Linked DNA regions of Homo sapiens. The protein of the gene in region 1 purifies or fractionates together with the protein of each later gene. This does not show direct contact. Each region holds a gene or a part of one and is shown in the gene's direction. Other genes may lie near its edges.

The links.
Region 2: the proteins of SIRT2 (region 1) and ORC2 purify together in Homo sapiens (affinity purification with mass spectrometry; 3 studies listed by BioGRID and IntAct, with this or other methods). This does not show direct contact.
Region 3: the proteins of SIRT2 (region 1) and DEGS1 purify together in Homo sapiens (affinity purification with mass spectrometry; 3 studies listed by BioGRID and IntAct, with this or other methods). This does not show direct contact.
Region 4: the proteins of SIRT2 (region 1) and SCFD2 purify together in Homo sapiens (affinity purification with mass spectrometry; 3 studies listed by BioGRID and IntAct, with this or other methods). This does not show direct contact.
Region 5: the proteins of SIRT2 (region 1) and RAB3GAP1 purify together in Homo sapiens (affinity purification with mass spectrometry; 3 studies listed by BioGRID and IntAct, with this or other methods). This does not show direct contact.
Region 6: the proteins of SIRT2 (region 1) and VAMP7 purify together in Homo sapiens (affinity purification with mass spectrometry; 3 studies listed by BioGRID and IntAct, with this or other methods). This does not show direct contact.
Region 7: the proteins of SIRT2 (region 1) and FADS1 purify together in Homo sapiens (affinity purification with mass spectrometry; 3 studies listed by BioGRID and IntAct, with this or other methods). This does not show direct contact.

What each region holds. Positions count from the first base shown.
Region 1 is NC_000019.10:38,889,378-38,893,266, reverse strand, and holds part of SIRT2 (NAD-dependent protein deacetylase sirtuin-2), read left to right. Parts: intron 1-3,122; coding exon 3,123-3,164; intron 3,165-3,305; coding exon 3,306-3,412; intron 3,413-3,521; coding exon 3,522-3,578; intron 3,579-3,889. UniProt on the Homo sapiens protein: NAD-dependent protein deacetylase, which deacetylates internal lysines on histone and alpha-tubulin as well as many other proteins such as key transcription factors.
Region 2 is NC_000002.12:200,928,825-200,932,713, reverse strand, and holds part of ORC2 (origin recognition complex subunit 2), read left to right. Parts: intron 1-1,265; coding exon 1,266-1,375; intron 1,376-3,889. UniProt on the Homo sapiens protein: Component of the origin recognition complex (ORC) that binds origins of replication. DNA-binding is ATP-dependent. The specific DNA sequences that define origins of replication have not been identified yet.
Region 3 is NC_000001.11:224,189,412-224,193,300, forward strand, and holds part of DEGS1 (sphingolipid delta(4)-desaturase DES1), read left to right. Parts: intron 1-165; coding exon 166-908; intron 909-1,680; coding exon of another isoform or gene 1,681-1,722; exon of another isoform or gene 1,723-1,745; intron 1,746-2,920; coding exon 2,921-3,067; 3' UTR 3,068-3,889. UniProt on the Homo sapiens protein: Has sphingolipid-delta-4-desaturase activity. Converts D-erythro-sphinganine to D-erythro-sphingosine (E-sphing-4-enine). Catalyzes the equilibrium isomerization of retinols.
Region 4 is NC_000004.12:53,363,243-53,367,861, reverse strand, and holds the start of SCFD2 (sec1 family domain-containing protein 2), read left to right. Parts: upstream 1-1,800; 5' UTR 1,801-1,920; coding exon 1,921-2,758; intron 2,759-4,619. UniProt on the Homo sapiens protein: May be involved in protein transport.
Region 5 is NC_000002.12:135,131,987-135,135,875, forward strand, and holds part of RAB3GAP1 (rab3 GTPase-activating protein catalytic subunit), read left to right. Parts: intron 1-908; coding exon 909-998; intron 999-1,874; coding exon 1,875-2,047; intron 2,048-3,278; coding exon 3,279-3,333; intron 3,334-3,577; coding exon 3,578-3,889. UniProt on the Homo sapiens protein: Catalytic subunit of the Rab3 GTPase-activating (Rab3GAP) complex composed of RAB3GAP1 and RAB3GAP2, which has GTPase-activating protein (GAP) activity towards various Rab3 subfamily members (RAB3A, RAB3B, RAB3C and RAB3D), RAB5A and RAB43, and guanine nucleotide exchange factor (GEF) activity towards RAB18.
Region 6 is NC_000023.11:155,894,638-155,898,526, forward strand, and holds part of VAMP7 (vesicle-associated membrane protein 7), read left to right. Parts: intron 1-985; coding exon 986-1,043; intron 1,044-3,474; coding exon 3,475-3,612; intron 3,613-3,889. UniProt on the Homo sapiens protein: Involved in the targeting and/or fusion of transport vesicles to their target membrane during transport of proteins from the early endosome to the lysosome. Required for heterotypic fusion of late endosomes with lysosomes and homotypic lysosomal fusion.
Region 7 is NC_000011.10:61,814,023-61,818,572, reverse strand, and holds the start of FADS1 (acyl-CoA (8-3)-desaturase), read left to right. Parts: upstream 1-1,569; 5' UTR 1,570-1,643; coding exon 1,644-2,018; exon of another isoform or gene 2,019-2,146; coding exon of another isoform or gene 2,147-2,287; exon of another isoform or gene 2,288-2,370; intron 2,371-3,322; exon of another isoform or gene 3,323-3,337; coding exon of another isoform or gene 3,338-3,499; exon of another isoform or gene 3,500-3,716; intron 3,717-4,550.

The sequences.
Region 1 (3,889 bases):
GTGTTGGCTCTAATCCAGCTTGAAGCACGGCTGGGTCCAGGTGCTTCCACTTTGTTAAAAATCATAACTCTCTCTGATGCTGCTTTTCTTGTTTTGGGGTAAAGGTAACTCCTGGCAGCTGCAAATGCAGGTTCCACTAGCCTAGGAGCTGCCACCGAGAGAGCACCTTTTCCCAGTAGTTCAAACCAAACAGCAGAGATTGGCTCCCATTGGTCCCGGTTGAGTCAAATGCCTGCCCCCATGCCTCTGATTGGCCAGACCTGGGTCGCTTCTCCATTGCTGAGTGAATTACTGCACTCTGATTGACCAGGCCTGTTTCATAAAATGAGGATAATGATTATAGTATCTAACTCATAAGGTTATTGGCGGGGCTAAATAAATTAATATAGGACCAGGGGCAGTGGCTCATGTATGTAATCTCAGCACTTTGGGAGGCCATCGTGGGAGGATCACTCAACGCCAGGCGTTCAAGACCAGCCTGGGCAACATAGTGAGACCCCCCCGCCATCTCTACAAGAAAAAAAAAAATAGTCAGATATGGGGGCGTTGCCTGTAGTCTCAGTTACTCAGGAGGCTGAGAAGGGAGGATTGTTTGAGCCCAGGAATTGGAGGCTGCAGTGAGCTATGATGGCACCACTGCACTGCAGCCTGGGCAACACAGTGAGACTCTGACTCTAAAAAAAAATAAAGTAATAAAATTTAAAAGATAAATAAAAATGCAAATGCTTAGAGCAGGGCCTGGAACATAGCGAGAGCTGTGGCAGGGTGTGCCGTGGTTATTACTACAGGAGGCTTATTTCAGATGTGGTGGATAGGTGTCCACTTACTGAGTCAGCATGAAATTTATATTTCTTTTTCTTTTTTTTTTTTTGAGATGGAGTCTTGCTCTGTTGCCCAGGCTGGAGTGCAGTGGCACAATCTCAGCTCACTGCAACCTCCACCTCCCGGGTTCCAGCAATTCTCCTGCCTCAGCCTCCCGAGTGGCTGGGATTACAGACGCACACCACCACGACTGGCTAATTTTTTGTATTTTAGTAGAGACAGGGTTTCACCATGTTGCCCAGGCTGGTCTTGAACACCTGAGCTCAGGCAATCCACCCTCCTCGGCCTCCCAAAGTGCTAGGATTAGAGGCATGAACCACCCGTCCCGGCCTGAAATTTATATTTCTTGCCACAAGTTGAGGTCACCAAAGTCTGAGAAACCAGGCCCTTGGCAGTCCTCAACTAGAACAATCGACCCTTTGTGGTTCCTGAGCAGCCTTTTGTTGAGGACATCTTCTCCTGTGTCCCTGTCCTCCAGCTGCCACTGTCTCCCTCCTCAGGCAGCCAGGCCTGCTGCCCTGAGCCTCCCTCTCCTGCGGCAGGCGAGCAGCTGTCTGCAGCCATCTTTTAGCCTGGGCAGGCCCCAAAGACAACACAGGCAGTGGCTACAAAGCATTTGTTCCTTGTGTCCTCCTGCACCTGGATTCTGGGGTAATTGGCTCATGAGGGTGCCCAGGAGGAGATAGTAATGAAAAATAACAATTAGTTGAGGCCGGGAGTGGTGGTTCAGGCCTATAATCCCACCATTTTGGGAGGCTGAAAGCAGGAGGATCGCTTGAGGCCAGTAGGTCAAGACTAGCCTGGGCAATAAGCGAGACCCCCTCTCTGCAAAAATTTAAAGGTGAGGCTCCAACCCTCACCTCACTGCTCTAAAAATTTATTATTATTATTATTTTGAGACAGAGTCTCACTCTGTTACCCAGGCTGGAGTGCAGTGGCGCTATCATGGCTCACTGCAACCTCTGCCTCCCGGGTTCAAGCGATTCTCCTGCTTCAGCCTCCCGAGTAGCTGGGATTACAGGCGCGTGCCACCACGCCCGGCTAATTTTTGTACTTTTAGTAGAGACGGGGTTTCACCATGTTAGCCAGGCTGGTCTTGAACTCCTGACCTCAGGTGATCTGCCCCCCTCGGCCTCCCAAAGTGCTGGGATTACAGGAGTGAGCCACCGGGCCCGGCCCTAAAAATTTCTTTTTAACCACTTAATTGAGGCTTCACTATTTGCCAGGCACTGGGCTCAGCACTTTACAAGTGCCCTATTATTTGATATTCACATTATACCTGTAAGATCATTATGGAAGTGATCTGAACAGAGGAGGAAAAGGAGGCACAAAAAGGTCACGACTCAGTGTAGGGTCAAACAGTTGCCAAGTGGCAGAGCCAGGATTTGACCCCAGGTCCCCTGAATCCAGACCACATGTAGCCACCACTGGATTCAACCAGGCCTGGCCTGATGGCATCTCAGAGCTGAAGCTCAGGGCTGAAGCTGTGGCAGGCTTTGTGCTCTGTTCACCTTTGCTGTCCTCCCTTGGACAGGGCATCCCAGAGGCATCTGATCCACAGCATATCACACTTGTGCCTGTCTATCAGCTGATGGGCAGATGCCAGGGTACTATGGCCTGGTGGCTACTCACCAGCCACCAGCTAGCTATTTCTGCTCAGCCCAGGGTTCTTATCCTAAAGTGGCCTTTTCTCAAGTCCAAGTTGGTGTGATTTCCAACAGTGGATTCTCTTTTTTTTTTTTTTTTCCTTTTTTTGAGATGGAGTCTCGCTCTGTCACCCAGGCTAGAGTGCAATGGCATGATCTCGGCTCACTGCAACCTCCGCCTCCCGGGTTCAAGTGATTCTCCTGCCTCAGCCTCCCAAGTAGCTGAGATTACAGGCACGTGCCACCACGCCTGGCTAATTTTGTATTTTCAGTAGAGATGAGGTTTTGCCATGTTGGCCAGGCTGGGCTCAAACTCTTGACCTCAGATGACCCGCCTGCCTCAGCCTCCCAAAGTTCTGGGATTACAGGCATGAGCCACTGCACCCAGCCCAACACTGGATTCTTTATCCGCTGGCTGGCTCTTCCGCAGTTGATTGTGTGACTTCTTCCCCTATCTGAGCCCCAGTTTTCTCATTTATAAAATGGGGATGTTAACACCATCCCCGTCTAGATGATTGGAAGGCCCGTCATGCATCTGAGATGCTTGCCCCAGGGCCTGGCATGGAGTAAACGATGTCAGGGGCTGTGATGGGTGGTGCTATCGTAGGGACTGAGCAAACGGTGTCATATGGTGCATAAGTTCCTCTCCTCCAGGTCGCAGAGTCATCTGTTTGGTGGGAGCTGGAATCTCCACATGTAAGTAACCCTTCTCCCCCAGCAGCTACCCCCAGGAACTGGGGAGTCCCTCCCAAGGGCTGGGGAGGAGCCCTATCTGAGCCCTGTCCTGGGAGGGTTAGTATGGTATAGACCAACTGCTCCCTGACCCCCCTTTCCTAGCCGCAGGCATCCCCGACTTTCGCTCTCCATCCACCGGCCTCTATGACAACCTAGAGAAGTACCATCTTCCCTACCCAGAGGCCATCTTTGAGATCAGCTATTTCAAGGTTTGTGCTCCCCCAGGAAGGGGCGTCTGTGAGGGGTGGGGATGGGGTCACCTGGCTCCAACCCTCACGCTACCTGGGGCATCTGGCCCTCTGGCTGTCTCTCCTACAGAAACATCCGGAACCCTTCTTCGCCCTCGCCAAGGAACTCTATCCTGGGCAGTTCAAGGTGAGATCTTTGTTTTGCAGGGGGCGAAACAGGAAGGGTTGGGGGAGGGCACGCATGAGAAGCCCCGCCAAGGCCCTGCAGACAAATATTATGTAGCCATTAAGTACATGGGTGCTGGGCCCAGACTGCCTCGGTTCAAGTCCTGGTTCCTCGTGTCTTCATCTTACGACCTTGAGCCTCCGATTTGCCTCCTGTGAAGTGAAGCTAATGGTACTGTCTGAAGAGGGCTGCTGCGAGGCTTAGCTGACTAATGATGCCGTTGAGAGCCCGGGACCCTGCAGCCGGGCTGCCTGGGTGTGAATCTCAGCTCT
Region 2 (3,889 bases), on another chromosome or scaffold:
TGCTTCATTCTAGTACAGCTGGATATTGGGGTCGAAAGTGCAGTTTTCCATGAATATTAATTAAAGTTTGAAATGAGGCTGGGCATGGAGGCTCACACCTGTAATACCAGCACTTTGGGAGGCCAAGGCGGGAGGATCACGAGGTCAGGAGTTTGAGAGCGGCCTGCCCAACATGGTGAAACCCCATCTCTACTAAAACTACAAAAATTAGCCAGGCGTGGTGGCACGCGCCTGTACTCCCAGCTACTCAGGAGGCTGAGGCAGGAGAATCGCTTGAACCTGGGAGGTGGAGTTTGCAGTGAGCTGAGATTGTGCCACCACACTCCAGGCTGGGTGACAGAGCAAGACTCTGTCTCAAAAAAAAAAAAAAAAAAAAAAAGTTTGAAATGAAAGTACATACATGAGATAACATTCTAGTGTTCACACTCAAGTGTGAATATGCTCAGATAATCTAGTGTAAATGACTGCTGGAAAAGATATTAGTGCTTTCTCTGCTTTTTCAGGGCTCTGAACTCAGAAGAGATAAGAGTTGTTTTTTTTTAACTACCTACTTAACAATTTTACTTAAAGGTAGTTCTGTTTGCTTTAACTGTGACTAAATAAACACAGTACAAGCCAGAGTACCTGGAATATTTATCGCAACTCTAATCTTCAGTATTTAAATAATATTTTACTTGAAAGGTGGTGGAATCATGAAAACATGGTAGTGCCAAAGTGAAGACCCATGTGTAGCTTTTTGCTAGAGTTTTCATTTCAAAAAATGATCTCTGATTCATCAGCATGAATTTCCAAGTTTGGGGTACAGGGCAATGCACTTTCCTCAGTTTATTTATATTATTGTTTTTAAAAATTTGCAATACTTACCAAAGATAAAGGATTTGTTAGAAACAGCTTTTGGAAGAGGAGCAGTGATATAGGTTTATTTTACTAATGATAATAGTAAGTAAATTATAAAGAACCTTTAATGTTTTCTGAGAAAGTAAAGCCTATTCTTGGAGTTTATAATCATTTAAGTGGTTCTGGACAAAACTTACCAAATTCTTTACTGTTATTACTAAAAAGAATGTTAACAATTTTAAGAAAACAAAAAAATTATTTTTTAAGAATTTTGTTTATCGGTTGATATACTCATTGCCAAACCAGATTAAAGTAATATTCCAATTGGATTGGCTTCTTCTAAGCTCTACTTCTAAGGAAATTGTTTGGATTGATTTGCTGTCTGTGCTTTGAGAATGACTTTTTTCCCCTCCTCCTTTTTTTTAAAGCAAACTTTGCGTAACTTATTGAGCAAGGTTTCCCCTTCCTTTTCTGCCGAACTTAAACAACTAAATCAACAGTATGAAAAATTATTTCATAAATGGATGCTGCAATTACAGTAAGTATTATCATTACAAACCCTTGTAAAATAAAGAATAATATTTACATGAATCTTTATGTTAAAGTAAGTTAACATTTTTCTTTTTACAGTGAGTTTCAGATATTTAGTCATATATAAAAATAAATGTAAAAATAGACATTATGACTCAGATATAGAAATGTCACTTTATTGTATGACTCTTCCCAGAAATTCTACAGTTTTTAAGAAATTTGTGTTTATCAGACTTGACAGCCATTGATAAGATAAATAGCATTTCTTAGAATTATGTTATTGGTTTAAAAAACTTGAATATTTCCTTTGTCAAGATTAATAAATATAACAATTAGAAAAAAAAATTATAAAGTTTTCCACAGCATAGTTCTTTAAATGAAAGGATAATATTTACTTTAATCTTATGTATGTGTACTACAGACTTTCAGAATTTTATGAACAGATTTGTTCTATAAGCATTATTTTACTATTTTAACATTATTTCCTAGAATATTTTTTCACTGTTATTATTTTCACACACCTCAGATTAAATTTTAAATTTCCATTAAAACACCTAGAAGAATGATTGAAATCAAAACATAATACTTTCTTTTTATGATAATTACTTTTATCCTTGCAGTTAAAAAGACTTGAACATAAGGAAGTGCTTAAAATGTACACTAATGTGAATATACATGCACACTCACAGTTACATTGTCACTGAGGTAAATAAGAAGGTAGAGCCATGGACCAGGCACTTGGCCTCCCATAATCCCAGTGCTTTGGGAGGCCAAGGCAGGAGGATTGCTTGAGCCCAGGGGTTTGAGAGACTCTGTCTTAAAAAAAAAAAAAAAAAAAAGTTATGCTAGGAAGGGAATGATTAACTTGCCTGCAAGAACCTCAGCTTCTCTCAATAACTATTTATGGATCTATGCATTATAAATTTGTAAGCTCTTCATTCTAATCCCATCCCCAGCCCATCATTTTTTTCTCCCAGCGTGTCAACTTAGATAACTTAATTTGCTTTGCTTCTCAGATTAGACCTTATAGTCAGCAAGTTTGTTGGAATTGCTAGCTCTCTGAATTCCTTGCCTCTTTATTTCTGCTGCTTTGACCTTGGTAATCTCTACCTTTGGAGGTTACCTCTTTTCTGTTCTTCCATTTCTAGGTTATCCTGCATTGCCAGAGAGCATCACATAAATACTGTTTCTGCTTGACCTTTGTAAACAATCACGGAGTTGGACTTTAGCTTGACCTCTAGTGCTTGGTGTTCTGGGTGGTCTCATTCACCCTTCTGGCTTCAGTTGTTTTCTGTATATGAATGACTCATGTAACTGTTAACCTCCAACCCATACCTCACTCTCAGTAGCAGACCTGGATATCTGAATGTATATTAGAAGTTTATACTTGGGTGTCCTGTAAATAATTCAACATACATAAAATTAAACTCATCTGAAATCCACTGTTCCCACCTGCCCCTGCTATCCAGCAGAGTGAATGACTGAATGTTAGTCACTCCATTTGTGTAGTTGCCTATGGCAGAAAACTGAGTCATTCTTTTTTTTTTTTCTTTTCTTTTTAAGAGACAGTCTCACTCTGTCACCCAGAATGGTGTGAATACAGCTCAAGGAGCCCCAACCTCCTGGGTTCAAGCAATCCTCCCACCTCAGCTTCCCAAATAGCTGGGTCCATAGATGTGTGCCACCATGCCTGGGCTAATTTTTTTTATTTTTTATTGTGTAGAGATGAGGTCTCACCATCTTGCCTAGGCTGGTCTCAAACCCCTGGGCACAAGCAATTCTCTGCCTTGGCTTCCAAAACTGCTGGGATTACAGGTGTGAGCCACAGCGCCCAGCCCTGAGTCATTCTTAAGTATTCTTTTCCTCACTCTCCACATCTAATCAGTCTCCAACTCTTACTGGTTTGACTTTCTATAAAGTTCTTGACATTTTAACATTTTTCTCCATGACAGCTAAGTTAATCTTCCACAGTTTTGTTCCTTCCTGTCCATTCCCCAAATATAATCAATGTGATCTTTCTGAAAAGAACATGTTACTTTCCTACTTAAAACCTTTCTGTTAACCCCTCATTAGTTACTTTTAAATGCTCATTCTTGGCTGGGCACGGTGGCTCACGTCTGTAATTCCAGCACTTTGGGAGGCCAAGGTGGGTGGATCACCTGAGGTCAGGAGTTCCAGACCAGCCTGACCAACATAGTGAAATCCTGTCTCTACTAAAAATACAAAGTTAGCCGGGCTTAGTGGTGCATGCCTGTAATCCCAGCTACTTGGGAGGGTGAGGCAGGAGAATTGCTTGAACGCGGGAGGCAGTGAGCCAAAATCGCACCACTGCACTCCAGCCTGGGTGACAGAGCAGGACTCCATCTCAAAATAAATAAATAAATGCTCATTCTCCTTGGAATGAGTGAATTAATGGTTTAGTATGACTTAACAAGGCCTTTGTTACTTGACCTCTTTTCAATTTGTATCAGTTTCAACTCTGCTTCAGCCTATAAAAGTTTTTAGGACTTTTTTTTTGTTG
Region 3 (3,889 bases), on another chromosome or scaffold:
AGAATCCTTCCCTGTGTTATTAAATATCCACTAAAGTCTCTAGTAAAGGGAATATGATTTACAGAACAAATTTAATGTGTTAGTTTAATTGGTGTTAATTTAATTATAATTGGTGAACTATTACATACTTTTCTTAGTTCCTGTTTTTTTGTTTTTTCTTTACAGCAAAGTATCCAGAGATAAAGTCCTTGATGAAACCTGATCCCAATTTGATATGGATTATAATTATGATGGTTCTCACCCAGTTGGGTGCATTTTACATAGTAAAAGACTTGGACTGGAAATGGGTCATATTTGGGGCCTATGCGTTTGGCAGTTGCATTAACCACTCAATGACTCTGGCTATTCATGAGATTGCCCACAATGCTGCCTTTGGCAACTGCAAAGCAATGTGGAATCGCTGGTTTGGAATGTTTGCTAATCTTCCTATTGGGATTCCATATTCAATTTCCTTTAAGAGGTATCACATGGATCATCATCGGTACCTTGGAGCTGATGGCGTCGATGTAGATATTCCTACCGATTTTGAGGGCTGGTTCTTCTGTACCGCTTTCAGAAAGTTTATATGGGTTATTCTTCAGCCTCTCTTTTATGCCTTTCGACCTCTGTTCATCAACCCCAAACCAATTACGTATCTGGAAGTTATCAATACCGTGGCACAGGTCACTTTTGACATTTTAATTTATTACTTTTTGGGAATTAAATCCTTAGTCTACATGTTGGCAGCATCTTTACTTGGCCTGGGTTTGCACCCAATTTCTGGACATTTTATAGCTGAGCATTACATGTTCTTAAAGGGTCATGAAACTTACTCATATTATGGGCCTCTGAATTTACTTACCTTCAATGTGGGTTATCATAATGAACATCATGATTTCCCCAACATTCCTGGAAAAAGTCTTCCACTGGTAAGTAAAGGATTTGATACATATTCTAATTTTGTTTTTTCATTTGTTTGTTTTTTGAGACGGTGTCTCACTCAGTCGCCCAGGCTGGCGGGCAGTGGCACGATCTCGGCTCACTGTAACCTCCACCTCCCGGGTTCAAACGATTCTCATGCCTCAGTCTCCCAAGTAGTTGGGATTACAGGCGCATGCTACCACGCCCAGCTAATTTTTGTATTTTTAGTAGAGATGGGGTTTTGCCATGTTGGCCAGGCTAGTATTTTGTCAGTCCAAGCAGTTCATTAAAAAAAAAAAAAACAAAAAGAGCAAGAATATAAATACTGCATCTTCCAGCCTACTTTTACAAAGGGTTCACTCTTGGGTCCTTAAGCTTAGTGGTTACACTTAGGATTTATTTTTAATTTTATTTTTTAACTTTATGTTTTTTTAGAGACAGGGTCTTGCCCTGTCACCTAGTCTAGAGTGCAGTGGTACGATAGCTCACTGCAGCCTCAACTCCTGGGTCAAGCGATCCTCCCACCTCAGCCTCCTGAGTAGGCAGGATTATAGGCACGTGCCACCATGCCTGGCTAATTTTTTATTTTTTGTAGAGGCAGGGTCTTGCTGTGTTGCTCAGGCTGGTCTCAAACTCCTGGATTCAAGTGATCCTCCTGCCTCAGCCTCCCAAGTAGCTAGGACTACAGCCACATGCTATGACAGGCTGATTTTTTAAATAATTTCTTTTAATCCTCCAAATGGTTTGTTAAAATTTTTAACATTTTTAACATTTTTATAGAGCTGGAGTTTCCTGGATGGGTGCAGTGGCTCACACCTGTAATCCCAGCACTTTGGGAGGCCTAGGTGAGTGGATCATCTGAGGTCAGGAGTTCGAGACCAGCCTGGCCAACATAGTGAAAGCCTGTCTCTACTAAAAATACAAAAAACTTAGCTGGGCATGGTGGCGGGTACCTATAGTCCCAGCTACTCGGGAGGCTGAGGCGGGAGAATCGTTTGAACTCGGGCAGTGGAGGTTGCAGTGAGCCGAGATTGTGCCACTGCACTCCAGCCTGGGTGACAGAGCGAAACTCCGTCTCAAAAAAAAAAAAAGAGAGAGATGGGTTTCCCTGTGTTGCCCAGGCTGGTCTCAAATTCCTGGGCTCAAGTGATTCTCTTGCCTTCCAGAATGATGCTGGGATTATACATACGAACCACTGTGCCCATCCAGATAGTTTTTTAACTTGAGATGAAAAGACATTTTTAACTTGAGATGGCAGAATTGCACATTTGATAAGTGCTTTTTTTTTTTTTTTTTTTTTTTTGAGATGGAGTCTCTCTCTCACCCAGGCTGGAGTGCAGTGGCACAATCTCGGCTCACTGCAACCTCCGCCTCCCGAGTTCAAGCAATTCTCCTATCTCAGCCTCCTGAGTTGCTGGGACTACAGGCGCACGCCACCATGTCTGGCTAATTTTTTTGTATTTTTAGTAGAGATGGGGTTTCACCATATTGGTTAGGCTGGTCTCGAACTCCTGACCTCAGGTGATCCACCCGCCTCGGCTTCCCAAAGTCCTGGGATTACAGGTATGAGCCACCGCACCCAGCCAAGTGCTTAATTTCTATCTAATTAGCATGCCACAATTTATTAGTATTTGTAAGTTCCTGGATGGCAGGGATCAGATGTTGCCTTTATATTCTATGGCGTCATCCATGCAGTACATTCTTTAATAATATCAAGTTAATCTAATTGTATGTATTTGTTGTTAATTTTACAAATAAGCCAGATATTTAGTCCCTTGGAATGTGATGGGAGAGAGACCTAGAGGGTCGAGTGTATTCAACTGCTGCTGAAATGTAGACTGCTTTTTGTTTAGAATTCCCACAGCTGCTGCTGCTGCTGCTTTTTTTTTTTTTTAAGAGAGAGGAGGGAGGCAGGTCTCATGGTTTCCCTTCTCAGTGTTTGTGTCAACCATTCATCAGTCATCTTTGAAAGAACCTAGTAACACTCATTTTTCATCTTGCTGTATTTTTTCCCTTCTAGGTGAGGAAAATAGCAGCTGAATACTATGACAACCTCCCTCACTACAATTCCTGGATAAAAGTACTGTATGATTTTGTGATGGATGATACAATAAGTCCCTACTCAAGAATGAAGAGGCACCAAAAAGGAGAGATGGTGCTGGAGTAAATATCATTAGTGCCAAAGGGATTCTTCTCCAAAACTTTAGATGATAAAATGGAATTTTTGCATTATTAAACTTGAGACCAGTGATGCTCAGAAGCTCCCCTGGCACAATTTCAGAGTAAGAGCTCGGTGATACCAAGAAGTGAATCTGGCTTTTAAACAGTCAGCCTGACTCTGTACTGCTCAGTTTCACTCACAGGAAACTTGTGACTTGTGTATTATCGTCATTGAGGATGTTTCACTCATGTCTGTCATTTTATAAGCATATCATTTAAAAAGCTTCTAAAAAGCTATTTCGCCAGGCACGGTGGCTCATGCCTATAATCCCAGCACTTTGGGAGGCCAAGGTGGGTGGATCACCTGAGGTCAGGAGTTCGAGACCAGCCTGGCCAACACGGTGAAACCCCATCTCTACTAAAAATGCAAAAATTAGCCGGGCGTGGCGGCACATGCCTGTAATCCCAGCTACATGGGAGGCTGAGGTGGGAGAATTGCTTGAACCCAGGAGGCGGAGGCAGAGGCTGCAGTGACCCAAGATTGTGCCACTGCACTCCACCCTGGGCAACAGAGCAAGACCCCATCTCAAAAATAAATAAATATATATAAAAAATAAAAAGCTATTTCTAGTTTATTTCACTATAAAGTTTTGCTTTATTAAAAAGCTAATAAACAGCTATTAATCACAGTGTATTAGTATTTGTTACATTTTTGTATTTCACTATCTTTATACTATATAATATGGTAACTTGGGTACCGGGGGAACTTTAAAATTTCATCTCAAAAATAATTTTTAAAAAGCCTGAGGTATGATATAGCATAAAAGAT
Region 4 (4,619 bases), on another chromosome or scaffold:
CTCATGCCCTATATGAAGCTTTTTCTGACTTCTTCCTTTTTCTCTTAGAATTTATTTTTCCTCCTTCTTGACTCCTATACAAAAAATTTTAAAAAGTATTTGCTTCTGTAACATTTTATTGCACTTGTTTTACATGTGTGGGTCCCTTTATTTCATCATAATTATTTTGAAATCAGGGCTGTGGTTTAGTTTTCTTTATATCCTTAAAACCCAGACAGTGTTTGGAATACTGTACGTATTTATTAAAAATTGGCTGGATATATTATTATGTGGAATTTTTTTTTTTTTTGAGACAGAGTCTCGCTCTGTCGCCCAGGCTGGAGTGCAGTGGTGCCATCTTGGCTCACTGCAACCTCTCCCTCCTGGGTTCAAGTGATTCTCCTGCCTCAACCTCCCGAGTAGCTGGGATTACAGGTACCTGCCACCATGTCCAGCTATTTTTTGTACTTTTAGTAGAGACGGAGCTTCACCATGTTGGCCAAGCTGGTCTTGAGCCCCTGACCTCAGGTGATCTGCCCACCTCGGCCTCCCAAAGTGTTGGGATTACAGGCATGAGCCACCGCGCCTGGCCATGGATATTAATTGAACATTCATTCAACGAACATTTATTGAACACCTGTTATAAGTGTTGGGGATACCAAGCATCTAGTGCATAATTTAGCAAAACAGATAGTTTAAAGAAAATAGTGTTAATACTTACCCCATGATATGGCAAGTACTTAGCGAATGTATCAATTGAGTGGTTTGATAGGTGGGGGAAGTGAGAGGTGATAGGGTGATAGTGGTGGTGAGTTAGAAAAAGTCTCTCACAGGCAGTACTGTTGGAATGATTATTTTCGGTAAGTTTACCAGGTAAATTCTTTGTGGATTAGGTAATGAATTTTATTAACCATTGCATCTTTGAAGCTTAGCACAGAGATTATACTTAGTAATGTAAGTATATTGGTGGAACAAACAGAACCCATAAAACATTTTGGGTTCAGCCTATTGACTTCATTGTATCGGTACAATTTTTCTCCATGTTGGGAATAGCTGGAGAGAAATTGAGAAATCAAGAAGGATGTTGATGCTTTTTAAAGAGTGTGGATGTATCCTATAGGCAACTGGGCTAGGAGAAGCTTTTAAGCAGGAAAGTTGTAGGACCAACTTTGTTTATTAGGAAGAAAATAGAATTGGAGGGTAAAGAGATCAAAAGTCAGAAAATGTTGGGAGATCATTGCCTGGGTGAGCGATGATGTTGGGTTTTTGTGACAGCAAAAATGGAGAGGAAGGGCTGAATTCTGAGAGTTTTTAAGCCTATAAGATGTAGTGACGATGAGATGAGGGAGGAAAGATGGAGAAAGTGAAAATGAGAACAACAGGGTTTGTTATGAGGCTTGTGGGCGATAACGTATGTGACAGCAATCTATAAACCCAAAATATTGCACACGGTTGTTTTTATTATCTTTTTCTAGTTGCTCTGAGTTTAGATTGAGAAGGTGGCTGTACTTTTGGAGACGTGTTCATATCTAAGGAAGATACCAAATTTCGGATTAGGTTTTTATTTCGGAGACTTTTCAAGGAACATGAGAAGATTATCTGAGAAGATTATCTGCGCAGACAGGCCGAGCGACGGAAAGAACTCAGTTCAGCTCCATCTCAGGAAACACCTGATCTCCACGAGCTTTTGAGGAAGCCCGGAGCCACAGAGCCCCACCCACTTCTTTCCCGACCGCGCCATCCTTCCTCACTCCCGGCCTCCTCTCTAGCCAATCACCGCTCAGTTTAACGTCATCACCGAGCGCCATCAGGGAGCGTGTCAGAGGCCGACCACGTGTACTGTGGAGACTGTCAAAGTCTCCCGGAGCCCAATTTCCGGAAGCGGTGAGTTCTGAAAGAAGTTCCTGCACCGTAGTTTCCCAAGTCTGCGAATCCCCAACCATGAGCGCCTCGGGCGTACTGTCCTTTACCCAGCAAGGATGGGAGCAGGTGCTGGCCAAAGTGAAACGGGCTGTGGTTTACCTGGACGCCGCCTGCGCCGAGAGCCTGCACTGGGGCTGCGGATCCACCCGTCTCCTGGAGGCGGTGGGGGGTCCTGACTGTCACCTGCGAGAGTTCGAGCCCGACGCAATTGGTGGTGGAGCCAAGCAGCCCAAGGCAGTGTTTGTGCTGAGCTGCCTGCTGAAAGGCCGGACCGTGGAGATCCTACGGGACATCATCTGCCGCAGTCACTTCCAGTATTGTGTGGTGGTCACAACCGTGAGCCACGCTGTCCACCTCACAGCTAATCATGTCCCAGCGGCGGCAGCGGCCGAGATGGAGGGGCAGCAGCCGGTGTTCGAGCAGCTGGAGGAGAAGCTGTGTGAATGGATGGGCAACATGAACTACACGGCCGAGGTGTTCCATGTCCCGTTATTGCTTGCCCCTGTTGCTCCCCACTTTGCCTTGACTCCAGCTTTTGCATCCCTTTTCCCACTGCTACCCCAGGATGTGCACCTCCTTAATAGCGCCCGACCGGACAAGAGGAAGCTGGGAAGCCTGGGTGATGTGGACTCCACTACGCTAACCCCAGAGCTGCTGCTGCAGATCAGATGCCTAGTGTCAGGCCTCAGTTCTCTGTGTGAACATTTAGGAGTACGGGAGGAGTGTTTTGCTGTAGGTTCCTTAAGTCAGGTCATCGCTGCGGATCTGGCCAATTATGCCCCTGCAAAGAACAGGAAGAAGACTGCTGCAGGCAGGGCATCAGTGGTTTTTGTGGACAGAACCCTGGATCTCACAGGTAAGTGCATTGCTCTGGAGTTCTTCATTACCATTCCCCACATTGCTGGGACTTTCATTGATTCAGCATATATTTTATTGACCTTTTATTATATATTAGATTGAGGATACAAAGATGAACTAGATGGACACGGTCTCTAATCTCACAGAGTTTATTGTCTAAAGTGGAATACAGACAGGTGAATTAGCAATTACAATAACATTTGTTAAATGCTGTAATGGGTAGAAATGTCATAAATGCCCATTGCCTTGTTAAACAACAACTTTAGCCCAAGATTATGCTGACAGGGAGGAAAACTGTGCACCTGGGAAATTTTATTTTTAGAAATTTACGAATGCCAGTATTCACAACAGTCCTTCATAAGAAGACTCTGGTTTGTTGGAGAAGTGTTAATAGATGACCCAGCGGAAGGAAAACTACTGCACAAGAAAACATAAAATTATTACAGACAATTGAGGTTTAGGAAATGAGTGTTCAAAAGTGAGGCTGAACTTAAATGTTACTAGTAAATGAGATGAAATAGAATTGTAGAAAATATTTTCAAATGTTTATTGATTTATTTTTAGCTCTCATTGTATTAAAGATTAAGTAAATAATCTCAAATTGTAATAATGTATTATTTACACAAAAGAAACAAATGTAATCCTTAAAGCAGATGAAGAAAAGACACTTTCTGATGTTTGATATGTTATTTTCAAAGGTCAACTTTATTGTTCTCTAATTAGGTTGTATAATACTGTTAGTAATATAGCCTAGCCACTTCCAAGTCCAGGGAGAATAATCGGAAAACTGACATTGGTAGGCATTCCCTTTAATCGGTCAGAAAAAAAGTTGAATTAAGTTATAAAAAACGAAATAGGTATATTTGAGTTTTTAATCTTAATAAGATTAATTTTCAGATAAAAAATGGAAAGTAGGCTAAATGGTAATACTGAGATGTAAACTTAATTATGTGACTGGAAAAACCAGGTGTCCAGTCTGTGATTTAAATATATAAGTAATAACTGTAGCATCACAGAGTCCATAGGGGATTAAAAGATAAAACCTGATAAGTAGATGCTTGTTGAGTTTTTTTGTGGATGCTATATATTACTGTTACTTCTATCTCTTTATGCCAAAAATGTAGCAAAGTTGTTTCATAATCAACTGGGAAGTTCACATAATTTTGTACCCTCCCCTAAGACTTCTGTTAGGCAAAACTTAATATCCCACTGTCCAGCATCATAGTAACAGCTCTTTACATCTTCAGTAGGTAATGCTTTTTTTTTTTTTTTTTTGAGACGGAGTCTCTCTCTGTCGCCCAGGCTGGAGTGCAATGGCGCAATCTCGCGAGGCTCACTGCAAGCTCCGCCTCCCGGGTTCACGCCATTCTCCTGCCTCAACCTCCCGAGTAGCTGGGACTACAGGCGCCCGCCACTACGCCGGGCTAACTTTTCGTATTTTTAGTAGAGACGGGGTTTCACCGTGGTCTCGATCTCCTGACCTCGCGTGATCCACCCGCCTCGGCCTCCCAAAGTGCTGGGATTACAGGCGTGAGCCACCGCGCCCTTTTTTTAAACATACAGAATAAATAAGGTGAGCATAACTTCTGCCCTCTAAAAGTTTACAATATAATGTAGTCAAGTATCAATATAACGTAGTCAAGTATGATTTAGAGCCCGGCACAGTGGCTCATGCCTGTAATCCCATCACTTTGGGAGGCTGAGGGGGGCAGACTGCTTGAGCTCAGGAGTTTGAGATCAACCTGGGCAACACAGCAAAACTCAATCTCTACAGAAAATTTAAAAATTAAATAAAAAATGAAAAAACTAGCCAGGTGTGGTGACCTGTAGTCCCAGCCACTCAGGAGGCTAAGGTGGAG
Region 5 (3,889 bases), on another chromosome or scaffold:
CCAACTTTTTAGCTTGTACATCGTAAGATGTAGGTAGTGATACTTAGCTCAAACAGTTGTATGAGAATAGGATAATGCTGGTAATTGTGCCTTATGGCACTTGGCACATAGTAGTTCATCTAATTTTTAAAAGTCTATTGGACATGTTCTATAATGTGTGGCAAAGTATACATAGTAAGAGGGATTACTAATCAGCAGTACCACAAAACAATTGAGAGGAACAGTGATAAAAGGACTGTAAATAAATGTCTATAGAGAGCCTCCTTCTTAAGACTGTATTCTTAAAAGAATGTTATTCAAATCATGTAGCTCAGTTGTCATGTACACTGGATTTTTTTTTGACCACTCGTACATGTACATATAAACAGAAACCACATGGAAAAGGTACATTGGTTATTATAGGTTTAGACTGCTTCCTACTTTCCAGGGGTATCATAAAATAAAGCTGTGGGTCTTGAATATCATCTCTTAGTAGTCTATATATGAAAGCCTGTGGATGATGTAACTCTTCAGATCCTCATGAGTACATGAGTGTTTTTAAATTGTCTTTTGTGGTTTTGTTTTTTAGATAGTAGTAACACTAAAAAAATGTAATGGCCTTGGGTGAGCATGAAGTCACAGTGATGAGATTTTGCTTTTGCACCTTTCAGCTTACAGAATCAAGTGATTACTTTTAAGAAAAAAATTCTAATTTCTAAAATTGGCTAGTCACTGAAACCTTGTATATTTTCAAAGAAAAATAGAAAAAATTTGAGAGTGTAGAACAAACTGGCCAATACAACTGGAACATTTCTATTGTTAGAGCAGCAAAACCATTAAAAAGTTAAATAATGTCTATATGAGTTATAAAAATCAACAAAATAGGAAATGTGGTCTAAAATGTGATTATTTTTTTCCTTTCCTTCAAGTTCTTATTCCCTGATGCTGTTTCTGAGAAACCATTAGATGGAACTACTTCAACAGATAATAATAATCCTCCATCAGAGAGTGAAGACTATGTAAGTTGATGTGGAGTTCAATGTTAAAATGTTTTAAATGCACTGAATTTCTAGAGGTTCTATATATTTCTAGTTTAATAGCTTACTATATTTTTATTTTAAAAATCACCTTGGGAATTTTGGATGGCAGATCGTGGTTTCCACTTAGATAACTAGCACAGATACATATTTTGGGTAGCAAGAATTTTTCTGGAAACAATGAAAAAATAGCACAAATATACTCTACACAGCTGTAGGATTTCCCTCATTGTAGAGTTTTGGTGAAATCATTAAATTTGTGTTTCTCAGCAGATTCTTTTTGATATTTTAAAACTAGTTAGTGAATGGACAACTCTTTAATGAAGTAAAATGTGTAAAATTAGGTAAAATTTTCATGGTCTCTTTGTCTAGTCTTTGAAAAATTAAGAAGTTGAAGAATTTAAATGACAAGTGTAGATATATATCAACCTTTACAGTAGTTATTGTTGAGAAGTAGATTTGATGAGGTGAGAGAAAAAAGCAAAGGCTTTTTACATTTTCAGTTTAGATAGTTATGATTTTTGTTTTTTCAGACGTGCTCATTTTTGTAATTAAAAGATTTTTAAAACAACACATGAAATTTGGAATACTTCCTAAATATTCCACAGAAGAAATTGAAAGCTGTAACTTTAGCTTCATTAAACTATAGCTTTATCTTTTTTAATCTTAGTAGAAATCTTGAAAATGTGGGACTTCCTAAGAATAGTTTATGCAGTAGTGTATTAGACATTTGATAATGCCTAGTTTAGGTGGGATAGGTTAATTTTACAATTAAAATCTCTCCCTACGACCTTTTCAGTTATATGTGTAAAATATTTTGGTAACAAGTTTGCTTTGTTTCTATTTTGTTAAATTTAGAATCTCTACAATCAGTTCAAGTCTGCACCATCTGACAGTTTAACATACAAACTGGCTTTGTGTCTCTGTATGATCAATTTTTACCATGGAGGGTTGAAAGGAGTGGCACACCTCTGGCAGGAATTTGTTCTTGAAATGCGTTTCCGATGGGAAAACAACTTTCTGATTCCAGGGTAATAATTTCAATTTTCAATTGTTTGGATACGATTTTGTTTGTTAGCAGACATTTGACTTTTGACCTATTTTTTCCCCCTTCTAGGAAGTCTGCCCTAAGAAAGTGGCAAGAAGCTTAGACATGATTTATGTTCAGAGGTGTTCACTGCAGCAAATTTATTAATATAATAGAAAAAAAGGCAAAACCTAAATATCAAACATAAAAGAATAGTTAAATAAATTATACTGTATCTCTACAATAGAAAATTAGATTGATTACAGTTTTTCCCCCAATAATCTTTAATAACAGATGTTCATATTGTTTCTAATAAAGTAGAATATTTTAATGCATATACAAAGTACTTTTAATTATGTTGCTATATTTGTACAGGAAAAATATTATAAATACTGTGAAATGCTATCAGTTTTTCCCAGTGTGAAATTATACTTTTATTTTGTTCTTTATACTTTTATGCATTTTCAAAGTCTTTTGTAATAAACCTGTTTTTTGTAATTGACATTTTACTTAATCAAACAGAACATTTTCATTAGCACATAGGTTGATATTGCATAGTTTAGTGCTCATCTACCCATGCTATGATAGGAGAATCATGATTTTGAGCAATATAAAATGATTACTGATCCAAAAACATTTATATCATTTGCCAATCTCTGCTTAGCTGGATTCTCTCTTGGTTTTAGACAGTCCGCTCTGGAACATTTTACAGACCCAGAAGCATGTTGAATATGAGGGAGTGCCTCTGGCTGATTGCTGGGAACCTAGTAGTCTAGAGGAACCTAGAACTAGAGACAGTCCAAGGTCCTATTGAAATACAGGTGGAGATCTTGGTTTTTATAGTGAGAATCCACTGTAAGAATTTAGTACTGAATACACAAACTGATTTATTTTGTATGGTGTGAAATACTGTATGCTAGTACTTCCTGGAGTGGGTTCAGGGGCTTTTTCTCATTTTGAGTTTTTGTTAGCCTGAAAACTATCACTAATTTGCTGTTATGTTTTGAAATATCTATTATATTTGCTATTGGTGATTTGTGGACAAGGAGTATAAAATAAATTTTCATCTTTTAATTCTATGTGCTCCCCCTCTGGAATTCACTTACCTTACCTGTGGAAATCTAGTTTTGATTTCTTATCAATATAGCTAAAAATTATGGTAGTATAGAAAATAATCATATCTGAAGCAATTTTACTAAAACTAAGCTTTCTTTTCTCCTTACTTTATTTGATAGATTAGCAAGTGGACCCCCAGATCTGAGGTGTTGTTTACTGCATCAGAAACTACAGGTAAAGATTTCTCAATGACATGGATAAATGTGGTCTTGATTTAATCAGATTATTCTAATACTAAATGTAATAATGGGTTACATGCTGTTCTCATGGTGCTGCTGTAGGTTGCCTATAGTCAGTAGTCACTGCAATTCACAAGGTCCTGAGAAGTGGAGAGTGAAAATTAAATATTCAAGCAGTAGGTAGATTTTTATTTTTCTGTAACTAATTCAACTATAAATGTTATTTCTCTTTTCTTAAGATGTTAAATTGTTGTATTGAAAGAAAGAAGGCACGTGATGAGGGGAAAAAGACAAGTGCTTCAGATGTCACTAATATATATCCAGGGGATGCTGGAAAAGCAGGAGACCAGTTGGTGCCAGATAATCTAAAAGAAACAGATAAGGAAAAGGGAGAGGTAGGAAAATCTTGGGATTCCTGGAGTGACAGCGAAGAAGAATTTTTTGAATGCCTAAGTGATACTGAAGAACTTAAAGGAAATGGACAAGAGAGTGGCAAGAAAGGAGGACCTAAGGAGATGGCAAATTTAAGGCCGGAAGGACGGCTCTATCAG
Region 6 (3,889 bases), on another chromosome or scaffold:
CAAGGTCTCACTTTGTTACCCAGGCTGGAGTGCAGTGGCGCAATCTCAGCTTACTACAGCCTCAACCTCCTGGGTTCCAGCGATCCTCCTGCCTCAGCCTCCCAAGTAGCTGGGACTATAGGCGTGTGCCACCACACCTGGCTAATTTTTGTATTTTGTGTACAGACGGGGTTTTGCCATGTTGCCCAGGCTGGTCTTGAACTCCTGAGCTCAAGCGATCTGCCCGCCTCAGCCTCCCAAAGTGCTAGGATTACAGGCATGAGCCAGCCACCACGCCTGGCCTTTCGCTCACTCTTTACCTTGCCATCTGTTACTTATTCTTCAGGTCTTAAATCAGACATCACTTGTTCTGGGAAGTCTTTCTGGTTACCCTTTGGCAAATCTCCATTTCGTGCCTCATCTATTAATGTGTCCCCAGAGCACCATGTACTGCCTTTAACTTTCCTGTCATCCTGTTTGCCATGCTGCACTGTAATTCCTTACACTGTGATCCCTATGAAGACTGGGACTTGGTGGTTTTGCTTTTTTGTATCCTCAGCATCCAGCACAGTAACTAACTCAAAGTGGATACTCAAATGTTGAGAATTTGGTAGAAAAGATGTTTGCTTTAAGAACTTAGGAAAAAGCAAAGAAAACCATATGGCCTATTGGGGGTTAATCTTAATTACATCCTCCTCCTAAGATGTCATCTCTTGTTCATGCTTTAAGAGTCCAATTATGCTTTTGCAGCTATCGTTCTAATGGGTAATACACATGCTGTTGTGCTATGTAGCTAGAATAGAGATCTTTTTATTTCTTATGTACTTCTATCAGTTTGACTTGAAAGAAACAGGTATATTGGGAAGGGGAAGAGGGAGAAGAGACTGTATCCGTAAGTAATATGGTGACATTGGCAGTACTGAACGTGCTTATACATAGATAGAAGATAGAAGTAAAAGTGATGTTGCTTATAACCACAGTAAGTTTTATATCTTTTATTCTACAGTTATTTGTTTCATTACATCTGCCAAGACAGGATTGTATATCTTTGTATCACTGATGATGTAAGTAACTTGAAGACATATTGCTATTTAACTATGTGTACTGTTAATACAGCCAGTTCTTAATTATCTATACCAGGGGTCCCCAACCCCCAGGCTGCAGACCGGTACAGGTCTGTGGCTTGTTAGGAACCAGGCCACATAGCAGGAGGTGAGTGGCCTATGAGCATTACCACCTGAGTTCTGCCTCCTGTCAGATCAGCAGCAGCATTAGATTCTCATATGAGTGTGAACCCTGTTGTGAACTCTGCATCCGAGGGATCTAAATTGCATGCTCCTTAGGAGAATCTAATGCCTGATGATCTGAGGTGGAACAGTTTAATCCCGAAACCATTCACCCTCCCCCAGTCCTTGGAAAAATTGTCTTCTACAAAACCGGTCCCTGGTGCCAAAAAGGTTGGGGACTGCTGATCTGTACCTATAGTGGGCAAACGTGATGCGAACTTTACATAGCTGGAATTGTTAATATTTTGCATTTGTCATATAGAGCAGCAAATGTTAAGAAAACTTGATACTGGGGTATGTGCAAATCAACTCAATTTTGGTAGAGTTTTAGCTTAGCCTCTTGCAACTTCTATATTTATTCTATTTTGTAGTGAGAATTGATGTTCATAATTATAATTCTTTGATATCAAAACCTCTCAAAAATTGTTTACGTGGAATGTTAAATTAGATAGCATCATTTCTTCTATCAGTAGTTAATGAATCCTTTAATGTATGTGAACTTTGGAAAAACAAAATTACAATACATTATGATCAGCTATATAAACCTGTAGTTTACATTGGTTAGGTATGACTGTTTGTCGGCTCTCAGCCCAAAATTCTCAGTAACTTAATGATGTCATTAAGGTCCTTTCTCTTCTCTGCTTATCTCCGTGTCTCCTTCTTCCCAGACAGGTTGCCATTATGGTTTCGTAGAGCTACATACTTATTTATTCATGTCCGGAGTAGAGGGACTGTGTCTTCTTGAGTGTCTTATTGTAGGAATGAGGAAGCTTTTCCCAGCTGCATGCCCTCCCCTCCCCCTGCTTTCAAAGTGAACTTCCTTTCATGTCTTATTGGCTGCATGCTCATTTCTAAACTGCCTACTGGCAAAGAGACTTGGAATTGGCATGGTTGCCATAGATCAGGGTTCCTAATCTTTATTGTATCACAGACTCGTCACTTGTGGGACACTCCCAGAATGTTTTTGTTTTCTTTTTTTAATTTTCCTTTTCCAGAATGCTTTTAAATGTATAAAACACACACAATTCTAACAAAGCCAATTATATTGAAATATATATATATATAGTATTCAAAATATTTTAAAAACTTGATGTAGTAATATATATGCTTCTTTATGAACTCATTAACAAGATCTAGTCATAGGTCTAATAACTAATAGTCTTGATGTGATGGGTGTTGACAGTATTTTGAGATATCTGTAACTGTGATGGTATACAAAAAAAGATTTCTGTTGGTGACAGTTACAGGTACTGTTTAATACTACCCCGATTATGAATATACAACCTATATTCACAATTGAAATATAAGTTAACGATTGATAAAAATAATGATGTGATTTTCTTTTTTTCTATCCAAGTTCAAAGGCCCCTTGAATTTGGACCATTGACCCCAATTTAAGAACCCTTGGCTTAGACTAAGCATCTTGGGTGAAAGGGAAATGACTGTCAACCATAGTGATCATCACAATGATTTTTATCTCTGGCTTCACAATATTTTCCAAAAGTACGAAAAAATCTAGCTATATGTGAAATGACTGATGTGAAACAGCTTGGAATAGAAGGAAAATACTAATGAAATCTGGGATAGTTAGAGTCGAGCCTCATATTTCTTGAGCTATAATTTGATACACACATATACATGTATACATAAACACACATACACACATTCATTTTTTTCCTCTAAGGTATTCTTACAGAGAACACACATACTTTTTGGCTGGCTGGGATTAGACATGAGTATGTCACTTGATCTTTTCAAATATACCACCACTATTGAAAAAATTCGATTTGAAGTTAATATCAGTAGTAGTATCTGTATGTGTGAAAGACTCTATGATTATTATGGGATTTATTAAACATATTCTTGTGCTGGGCCTTCTAATAGATCTTATGAAATATATGGAGGAAGTAAAATTCAATTCCTGATGTCAAGAAGTTGATAACCTAGGTATCATTATCTTCAGTTGTCAATGACCAGATATATCTGGATTCATTCTCAGCTCTTTCATTTACTAGTTGTTGGACCTTTGGACAAGTTAGTTACTTTTTCAGAGCCTTCCTTTACTTATCTTTAAGATAGGATCAATGCTAGTTCCTCCTCAGATAATCATTGCTCAGTAAATGTTAGCTGTTTTTTATTGTTGTTCTTAATCACTCACATCATCTTTGTTTACTTTCTAAATGTGAGTTCTGTGTTGATCTCTTTTCAGGATTTTGAACGTTCCCGAGCCTTTAATTTTCTGAATGAGATAAAGAAGAGGTTCCAGACTACTTACGGTTCAAGAGCACAGACAGCACTTCCATATGCCATGAATAGCGAGTTCTCAAGTGTCTTAGCTGCACAGCTGGTAAGATCTTTCTCAGGATAAGGTATTTTGATTTATATCTTCTTCATTACCTTCAAACACTATGAATCTAGGGGGCCCTGACCTGCAATATAGTTTTCTGATTGTGTTACTGTAAGCCAACATAATAAAACTTCCCTGATTAAAAAAAAAATGTAAAGGGGCCATTTTAGGGTAGAAAACAGTGATAGTCTTTATTATCTCTATTAATAGTGGTCACAGTGTCTCATGATTGGAAGAGCATTAAAGATCATCTAGTTGAACTACCCATCTGATGCTT
Region 7 (4,550 bases), on another chromosome or scaffold:
GCTTGGCGATTTTCTTATTGTCAGGACTCGGGTTTATTTCCAGTTTTTGCTATTAAATTGGCTATTTCTGCATCTTTGCACAGTCTCCCCTACTTTACCAAGAGTGAAACTGCTTGATCAAAGAATAGAAAATGTTTTGTAGCTCGCATTAGACACTGCCAAGTTGTTGGGCAAGGTTTTTAAAAAAGGAATATTGGCTGTACAGAGGTGCAGCTGTGTGGACCATCATTCCTGAGCAGGGTCCAATAGCCTGGCATCTTACCTGGAAGTCAGGACATCTAAACTTCCCTATGGGAACTTGGTAAGCCCCTTCCCCATTTCGAACCTCAATTTTCTTATCTATAAAATGAAGAATTTGGATGGAATGAATTAATCCTTTTCTACCAGAAATCTAGCCATATTTCACCTAGTCTATTCTGTATCACCCTCTCCTGACTCCTACGTGCTCAGAATCTAGCTCAGTGCTTGGGACAGTTATGTTTCCTTTCCCTTTGAAGTGCCCAAATACCAGTGTAATGAGAAATATGGCAGAGCCTGAGAGTTCAGAGCACAGGCCAGGGTCAAATCTCAGCCCTCCACTTACAAGCTGTGTGACAAAATAACCTCCCCCGGGCTCAGTTTCTTCACTGTAAATTAGGTTAATTGTTCCAACCTCATAGGGTTGTTAGGAGAATTAAATGAGTTAAGGTTTGCAAAACGCTAAGAACAGTGCCTGGCACACAGTAAGTGCTTTATAAAGTGTTTGTTGAATAAATAAAATTTTGGACCTAAACTCTGGGTCTCTTCAGGACTGCAACAGCTTTGTAACTGGCAACCCCACTTTTAGGTGCGTTCCCACTCCTCTAAAACCCAGAGATCTAAATGCCAAATCTCTCTGCTTAAAAAGTCTCCCAGGGCTCCTAGGCGCCTCCAGGCTAGAACAGAAATGCCTCAGCTTGAAGACCCAGGCTTTTCAGGTGAAACACCTAAGGGTCAGGAGACGCTAGGATCATCACTCAAGGATCCCAGTGAATTTTTCCAAAATACAATAAAAATAAAAACAAAAAGAGGCAAACAGGGTTATAAAAATTGTGGGGCATTTTAAATGTTTCATTGAACAAATTAAAGCATTAACAGCCCTCCCCCAACCACCACCAAGCCCAAGAGACCGTAAATATGCTGTTCACAAGATAACTGCAACTTTCAAGGGCTCTCAGGCTGCTACTTCGGGCAGCACAATTGGCGGCACGACGTGGCAAGCAGGCAGTAGTTTCCAACCCTGGAGGGTCAGCGTCTGGAGACCCCGGCCAAGGCATCCACAGCCTAAAGATGATGTCCGCGACCGCCCGGGCAGCCTCGTGCACGGAAAAACCTCAACCCCGGCCCCGCCCACCCTTCCTGCGGCCACCCCGCAGCCCTGGCCCCTCAGTCCATTCACTCCTGCAGCGCGGCCCCGCACCCAGGGCCTGCACTAGAACCGCTGTTCCTACCGCGGCGCCCCCTGGGAGCCAACGCCGCGATGCCCGCCTGACGTCAGGAAGTCGAATCCGGCGGCGACGCCTTTAGGGAGCCCGCGAGGGGGCGCGTGTTGGCAGCCCAGCTGTGAGTTGCCCAAGACCCACCGGGGGACGGGATCTCGCTCCCCGCGCCACGAGGCTCGGCCAATGGGAACGCGCGCTGCGAGGCCCGCCGGTCTGCCCTGCGGTGCTGAAAACCCGGCGCGCAGGCGGCTGGCTCTGGGCGCGCGCCAGCAAATCCACTCCTGGAGCCCGCGGACCCCGAGCACGCGCCTGACAGCCCCTGCTGGCCCGGCGCGCGGCGTCGCCAGGCCAGCTATGGCCCCCGACCCGGTGGCCGCCGAGACCGCGGCTCAGGGACCTACCCCGCGCTACTTCACCTGGGACGAGGTGGCCCAGCGCTCAGGGTGCGAGGAGCGGTGGCTAGTGATCGACCGTAAGGTGTACAACATCAGCGAGTTCACCCGCCGGCATCCAGGGGGCTCCCGGGTCATCAGCCACTACGCCGGGCAGGATGCCACGGTGAGCGCAGCCAGGCGGGGGCACAGGAGAGGGCGGGACCGGAGGCTGAGTGCAGGGGAGACAGAGTTACGCACTCCGAGCCAAACACCGACTAATTCGGAGGAAAGCCCGGAGGCGCCTGATCATACCTGTTGCCCGGTGATTGGGTGTCCTGCGGATGCGGGATGAAAAGGCGGGAGAGAGGCCTGGAGAAGTGGAGTCTGGGGAGTGGGGATGGAGGCCAACAACACGCACACACAAACAAAGGGTCCCGCCTCCCTGCCGTGCATTCCATCTGCAGCCCCGAGCCTCAGGTCTCTGGGCGGGGACAGAACCCCGAGCTGGGTAGGCTAGGAGGGAGGAGAGCAAGGATGCAGGCCGCCTGGGGAGGGAGGGGGTCAGTGGCCAGGGGAGGGAGTCACATCCTGTCTCGATGGCTAGGAGAGGCAGCGCAGCCGCGTCTGGACCTAGGTGCCGGTCTCCACTCGCCAGCAGGAGCGGAGAGGGAGCAGGAAAGGAGCCCATTCTCGAGGATGGGGCTGAAACGGGAAGCTTGGGGAGACCGCTGCCTTGGGGACCCCTGCGTCGTGTGAAGACTGGAGGACGCGGAAGGGACAGCGCTGGCCGGGGAGGGCAAGCGGCCGCTGGCGTACATAAGGGATTGGGAATGGCATACACTTAGCGAGGACCCCCAGAGCTGTTCTCGAATCGCCGGGGAGGCCACTGAGCCGCAGGCCAGCGAGGTCTTCAGCTATTCCGCGGAGCGGACCGCTGTTTACGCTCTGGGGCGGTAGGCCCTTCGCGGGGTCCTGTCCCTTCTTCCCTTGGTCTCACTGCGGGGTCGGCGCGCGCCCCAGCCCCAGGCCTGCTGCTTCCCTTTCTAGACCACAGCCCTCAGAGCTAAGGCCCCGGCGCCTCTCTGCTGGGTTGGAGTCCTGGGGACTCAGTCCTAGGGACTCGAAAGTCGGGGCGTTCCCTTCACCGCGTTTCCCCCTTGGCGGCCAGAATGGCGTCCCCTCCCCTTGCATCCCCCTCTGATCCCGTGCCCTGCAGCGTGATGCCCTCCACTGTCCCTATCCACTACCCTGGCGTCCCAGAGTGTGCCGCGGGTCACCAGGTTCCCATAACGTCGCAGCAGAGCTTAGACGCTGCGGGGCGAAGACCCGCCCCACCCTCTGACGCGACCAGCCTAGTGGGCGAGGCCAGAGCTTGCGCGGGTCAACCAGAGTGACCACTCGGGAGCCCTGACTGCGGCCAAGGGCGCAGGCGTGTCCCGGCGCATGCGCAGACGAAACAGGCACCAACGCTGGAGCTTCCCGCAGTGTGATTTGGGGCCGGGAATGCCGCGGCGGGGACGGCGATTGGTCCGTATGTGTGGTGCCACCGGCCGCCGGCTCCGCCCCGGCCCCCGCCCCACACGCCGCATCACTTACAGGGCCCGGGGCTGCCGGACCTGCCAACGTGAATCTTATCGCCATGGACCTTACCTTGCACAACCCAAAGTAGCTGCCTTGGGGCAGGGGGTGGCCAGAGTGCTTAGGGAAATGTGGAGCCCTACCCAGAACAACGGTGGAGGGAAAGGGAAGAAACGCAGAAGTGCCCCAGTTCGGACGTAGGGAAGTCTTCCTCTTCGTGGTTTTTGGAGAACCCTAGCTAAGAGAGGAAAGGGACTTATTGAAAGACCCGCAAGAAGGGACGGAAGTCTCATAGCCCTGAGAGGTGAAGCCAGCTGGAGTTGATGGGTCGAATGGGGACCTAGAGAACTTTTCTGTATCTAGAGGTTTGTAAAATGCACCAATCAGTGCTCTGTAAAAACGCACCAATTGGCGCTCTGTAGCTAGCTAGAGGTTTGTAAAATGAGCCAATCAGCAGGACGTGGGCAGGGACAACTAAGACAATAAAAGCTGGCCACCCCAGCCAGCTGCTGCAACCCGCTCCAGTTCCCTTACAGGCTGTGGAAGCATTGTTCTTTTGCTCGTCACACTAAACCTTGCTGCTGCTCATTCTTTGGGTCTGCAAAGAGTGTTATTCCTTTAAGAGCTATAACAGCGGGAAGGTCCACGGCTCCATTCTTGAAGTCAGTGAGACCATACCCGCCGGAAGGAACCAACGCCCGACACAGCCCCACCCATCTCTCCTGTTTCTCACCTATACTGAAATTCTTGGGCAAAAGCTGTCTGTGGACACACCCAGGGGAAAGGCCAGCCCAGGCAGGTGTTTCTTAGTGGTTCCCCTCAGCCAATGCTTCCCATTCCTTGATGCATCCTTCTAACTAGAGCAGATACTCGGTGATCTTAAACTGTGGACACCTGGGAGCACCCTCAAAAGGCAGCTGGGCCTAGGGAGATGGCCTGTGCTTCTGTGTCAGGAGTTGGTTCCTTCAGGTGGGCTCGTGGTCTCGCTGACGTCAAGAATGAAGCCATGAACCTTCGCGGTGAGTGTTACAGCTCTTACAGGTGGCGTGGACCCAAAGAGTGAGCAGCAGCAAGATTTATTGTGAAGAGCAAAGAACAAAGCTTCCACAGCGTGGAAGGGTACCCGAGCAGGTTGCCG